Regions from separate parts of the Homo sapiens genome. Here region 1 is linked to region 2. The links come from fine-mapping of genetic effects on gene expression. A gene starts in region 2. The other region holds a variant in brackets. All regions are shown on one strand. Distances are between the middles of the regions.

The links.
Region 1: its variant is fine-mapped to the expression of FAM162B in subcutaneous fat (GTEx, PIP 0.94).

What each region holds. Positions count from the first base shown.
Region 1 is chr6:116,654,622-116,657,539 of GRCh38, forward strand. ZUP1 (zinc finger containing ubiquitin peptidase 1) reads right to left here. Exons shown (of 10, transcript NM_145062.3): 5 at 2,063-2,231. Among named protein-coding and RNA genes, the nearest start is that of ZUP1, 13 kb to the right of the region's middle. The variant C/T (reference allele first, on the strand shown) is at 1,535.
Region 2 is chr6:116,764,090-116,767,007 of GRCh38, forward strand. It overlaps FAM162B (family with sequence similarity 162 member B), which reads right to left and starts at 1,630. Exons shown (of 4, transcript NM_001085480.3): 1 at 1,316-1,630; 2 at 1,058-1,166. The coding sequence starts at 1,487. LOC105377963 (a long non-coding RNA gene) reads left to right here and starts at 2,279. Exons shown (of 3, transcript XR_942910.3): 1 at 2,279-2,450; 2 at 2,554-2,632. RefSeq lists an enhancer at 651-1,165.

The DNA of each region.
Region 1 (2,918 bases), 110 kb before region 2:
AACATTTAAACACAAACCACAGGCCTGAAAAAGATATTTGGATTTCATATAACTAATGAAAGAATAGTGTTCTGAATACTTAACAGTCTCCTATAAATCAGTAAGAACAAACAACTCAATAGAGAATAGAGAAAGGAAGAGAACAGGTAATTCGTTCAAGAGGAAACTAACTCAGGAGTAATCCAGAAAATGCAAATTAAAACATGTATCATCTCATAACCTGTTAAATAGCAAAAATTTAAAAGTGTCACCATACTATGTGTGAAATACACTGGTGTGAATGTAGATTACAAGCACTTTGGAAAACAATTCTATAATAACCTTAACAACGTTGAAGATTTGCACGCCCTTTAACTTAGCATTCCAGTTCTGGATGTAATACTAGAGAAACGCCTGAAGTAGACATGTTCATAAATTATAAGAGTAGAAAACTGGAAGCAATCTAAATGTTTATCAATATGAAAACAAGATAAGTTAGCTATAATTAGCTACATCCAGTTCTGGATGTAATACTAGAGAAACTCCTGAAGTAGACATGTTCATAAATTATAAGAGTAGAAAACTGGAAACAATCTAAATGTTTATCAATATGAAAACAAGATAAGTTAGCTACAATTCATACAAGGAAATACTACACAGCAGCTAAAATGAATGAAGTAGAACTGTAAGAACCAATATATTTGAGCAAAACAATTTATAGCATACATGTTGTATCCCATTTATATATAAACACCTGCAAAATATTTTATGGAAATGTACATACATGGTAAGAGTACTAAAGCATGTATGAGACTGATAAATATCAAACTTGGGATAATAGTTCCCTTGTGGGGAGGGCAAATTAGAATTAGAAAAAGTGTACATAAAGGGCTTTGAATACCTATCAAAGGTGTTGAAGCTTTAAAAACTTTTAAGTAAATATGGCAAAACATTAAGATTCAAAAAATCTGGGTGACAGTAACAAAGTTGTTTCCATAAAAAGTCTGTTAATATACTAATATATACAAAGAAAAAAATTTTAATACTCATCAGAAAAAAGCCATATTATGGGGCAAGGAAGATTTGATTAGGAATAACCAGCTGTGTAACCTTGCTTTGGCAAAGTCACTGTAACTTCTCTAAGCAACAGTGACCTCATTTGGAATATATAACAGTACAGGAGAGGATGTTTTGAGTTAAATGATACAATGTATATAGAGTTGTTAGTGTCTAAAAATGTACAAACAATAAAATAGCCAATAGCCATTTGTGGCTATCGAGAATTTGAAATGTGGCTGCCCAATTGAGTTGTGCTGTGAAGTAGAAAATACACAATGGATTTTGAAGAATGTATAAACAATGTAAAATGTCTCAGTAATAGTTTTAATGTTGATTACATGTTGAAATAATAATATCATGGATACACTGGTTTAAACTATTTAAATTAACTTCCCCTGTTCCTTTTCACTTTTTTTTGTTTTTTTTTTGTTTTTTTTGAGATGGAGTTTCGCTCTTGTTGCCCAGGCTGGAGTGCAATGGCGCAATCTCGGCTCAC[C/T]GCAACCTCCGCCTCCCGGGTTCAAGCGATTCTCCTGCCTCAGCCTCCCTAGTAGCTGGGATTACAGGCATGTGCCACCACGCCCAGCTAATTTTGTAATTTTTTTTTAGTAGAGATGGGATTTCTCCATGTTGGTTAGGCTAGTCTCGAACTCCCGACCTCAGGTGATCCGCCTGTCTCAGCCTCCCAAAGTGCTGGGATTACAGGCATGAGCCACCGCGCCCAGCCTCCTTTTCACTTTTGTTAATGTGGAGCCAGGAAATTTAAAATTATATATGTGGCTCACATTATATTTCTCTTAGCACTCTCTAGAGCATAGCTTTTTAAATGTCAAGTAACATAATATAAAAGTAAATTTTTAAGTGAATTATTTATCATAAAAATAATTCAGAAGTTTTAAAACAATACATTTTTAAAAAAATATTTGTGCACAGATTATGAAAATTAAGCAAAATTAAAATGATTCTGATTATTACTTCAGTGGTATAAGCAATATTAAAACAATGACTCTGATGTTTAAATACTCACCGGAAGTTTTTGTTTTTCCATCGTCAAAACCAAGAGCTAATGATTCCATCATATCAGCTTTTCTCCTATGAAATTCAGATGGAGGCATTCTTCCCCTATTTACTTCTATCTCCATATTTCGTAGTTGTTGTTGTTTGTATCCTCCAGAATTATCTAAACCATATTGTCTCTATTGAACATAAAAATAAATGACTTAATTTTTACATCCCTGTAACTCTATGAGGATGGAAACTTATTAAAATTTTATTTGGAAACATGTTGAAACATTCTGGTTTATAGACTTTATACAAGTTAACTTAAAGATTTTTACAAAAACTAATAACACACACACACACACACACAAAAAAAAATTATTGACTTAATAAGCAACCACTTCTTTATAATCAATCTCCAGGGCAAGAGACTTGCTTTTCCTGTAGTAGGGAAAGCAGAGGATCCTGTCTTTCTACCTCAGGTATTGGGAGATGCAGAAGAGTTCTGAATGCATTGCTGATTTTTTCAAGGAAACTTGTCAGTCCTTGTTATTTGGTTCCCAGTCTAGTCCATAAAGGCCTACTTAATCCATAATTCATTTAGTCAGTCATGTTACACAGTAAATGAACTATGTTTTGTACACTGGACAGAAATCTCAAATAGTATGTATAAAACTATGGAAAAATTGTCTATGGAAAAGTTTTCACGGAAACTTTTCTACAGAAAAATTTTCTGAGATCTAAACAACTAACTTGCAAAATTACATAACCTCCTTAAATATTGGAAACTTTTTGTATTGATCATGTTTTAAATTACATAAGGCATAAAAGTCTTAAGAAAAGCCAATTTTCTTTCCTATTTTGCAAGTATTGTGAGTCACCAG
Region 2 (2,918 bases):
TGCCATGTTCTCCCACCCCACCCCCTAGCTATCTGAGATGCTTTGGTAACTGATAAACTGCAATTGTTTATAAACAATAACATGGCAGGCACCATGTGAAAAACAGAAATATAGGCCCAGTTTCCATTATCCATTCTAATAGGCATTCATTACATTGTACAAATATACAGAATATCTAAAATCCTTCTTTCACGTTATGGTTTTAGTCTTTTATTTTTAAAAGATAAACTTAAAAAGTAGTAGATTGATTTTATTTTTAGTTTCCGTCCCTCTCTTTTTTACCCAATCCCTTGTAAAAATGCTGCGAAGGTTTTTGGGCTTGGCAGAAACAGAAACTTTGGAAAGATTTTTTTACAGGTTACATTTACTTATTATTAGCATTTATTTTACAGGTTACATTACCTTAGAGGGGGAGTTATTAGTTTGAGTTTTATCATCTGTCTTGGTGGGTTTAGCATGCTGAAGAGGCCCACAGTGCTGACACTCCCGCGCGTCCCACCCTGAGTAAACCCGGAGCCTAGAGGGCTGCAGAAACACGTCCGCCAGGCGTCTCCTGCCCCAGAAGAGGAGGCCGCATGGATGCGTCTTTTTTCCAGAGACCCCCCCGCCACAGCCGCCCCGCAAGCCAAGATCAGAGAACCCCTTCCTTGGGTGGGGTAGGGGGACGCCCCCGGCCAAAGCCTGGATTGCGGTCTGGCGTCCCGGCAGCCATCCGGATGCTCGCGAGGACCGTGGCCTGTTTGGCACAAGAGCCCCACTGCCTCCCAGTTCGGAGCTTGCTGGGGACCGGCAATCTGGGCGGTGCTGGAAGTGTCCCCTGAACCTCTCAGTTTTCACCCACCTTCTGCAATCTCCCTGTAAGCTTAATTGACTCTTGACACACCGCACTGGAGGCGGGGTGTGTGTGTGGGTAAACTCCGTGTGTGGTGGGTGATATTGCGAAGTGTTGGCACTGCGGCCGCTTTCGCTCCTAGGTGGCCGCGGTCGGAAGGTGGGTCACCCCGCACCCTTGCGGCCGGGGACCGACTCTCCTTCGCGCGGCGGTCGCCACACTTACGGGATCCGAGGCGGGATCTCCTCCATCGATTTGAAACGCCCTGTCCACAGCAGGATTTTCTTGTCGAACTGCGAAGGCCTGCGCTGCGTGGGGACTCGGTGAATCTCCCCTGCAGCGAAAGCAACCCAGATGGACGCGGGAACTGACGCACCGGCACAGAGGATCAGCGCGCCCTCAAGCCGACTCCCGGGCCGGCCCCTCGCTGCCCTCCCGCAACCTCCTCCCTCCCAGGACCTCCCCGTCGGAGCCCTGGCTCACCGTGACCTTGGGGCCCAGAATTGCTGGGGGCCCCGCCGCTGGAGTAGCAGGGGAGACCCCGGGGCGGAAGAGCCGGTGCGGGCCGTCGCGTGGCCTCGAGAGGCGCCCCGGGGCCGCAGCGGACTGTTAGCCCGCGGCCAAGGCGCAGTAGGCTCCCGACCGCCCTGAGCATGCTGCCCGCTTGTCCCGCGCCGCACCCGCACCTCCGGACCCAGCCACAGGCGTTGTCCCCGCAGCTCTCCTCGTCCCGCCCCGGCCTGCCGCGCGCTGGAGAGCCTGGGACGTGCAGCTGGAACCCCTGGCGCTCGCACACTCAGCTCGCTATCCCCGTCTCCGCCCCCGGCCAGCGACCCGGGATCAGGGCGTCAAGCCCCGAGGGGCTGGTTCCTCAGGAAGCAGCCTGCCTCTGTTTGAAACAGGCTCACCACCGCCTGAGGCAGTGCGTGTAGCTCCTTTTAAATTCTTTGTATTGAGTAGAAATGTATTCCCGCCAGGCTTTTAGCCTTTGATTCCATCGTTTGTTCCCCAGGAGAATAAATCTAAATCCTCTCTTCCAGGAAGAGACAACAATCCTTCAAGTGCAGGAAACTGAAGACATTTCCCAATTAAGTGTTAAGGGCACTCCACTAACTTCTGGATGAGATTTCTTGAAGTTAGCTCCTCACCTCATCGTCTCCCACCCCCATACCTTTTCTCTTTCCTACGGAAAACAATCTCAATTCCTCCAAGTGCCTTTCTCTATCTTTTCTTCTTCTTTTCAGAGACAGTCTCTGGCTCTGTCACTCAGGCTAAAGTGCAGTGGCATGCTGATAGCTCATTGTAACGTCGAACTCCTGGACTCAAGTAGTCCTCCCACCTTAGCCTCCAGAGTAGCTAGGGCTTTGGTCGTGCGCCAGCACGCTCCGCTATTTTTTTTTTTTTTAAGAGATGGGATCTCACTATGTTGTCCAGACTGGTCTCCAACTCCTGGCCTCAAGCTATCAGCTGGGCTCTGCCTCCCAAAGCACTGGGATTACACGTATGAGCCGCCATGCCAGCTTCCTACCTCTTCATCTCTTAGCCCACAAACTCTCCACACTCCCTTCAAAATGTGCCTTTCTTCTGTCACCTTCCACCATCTCCTCTATGCTAAAAGGTAAAAGAATCTACTATTTTCAGGCATTAAATGGTAACAGGGATTCAGATTCAATGATTGGAGAGAAGGGTTGTACAAGCAATTTACTTATCTTGTTCCACAGACAACAGACCTCCTGCCAAGTCAAAGTGCTCATCAGCCCAGCACCAGGCCGAGCTCACCCTCCTCTGCTATTACTGCCTGTGAGTTTCCCTCCTTATCTAGACACTGCTTTGCACTTGTTGGATTTCTAGATATTTTGCTTCCTAACTAGACTGTCAGGCTCTTGAAAGCTATAACTTTTCTGTAACTGCCAGCTCAGTTTTTTTTTCTTTTTACATAACCGTGTTAAACAAAAAAAGAGGGGTTAATAGCTCTGTGAAGACATACATTTAGAGGAGCGCTTGCAGAAGGAACATGGGCTTTGCCTTCACACCTAGGTTTAAATCCCGGATTTGTGACTTAAAAGTTGCACAATCATGAGCAGTA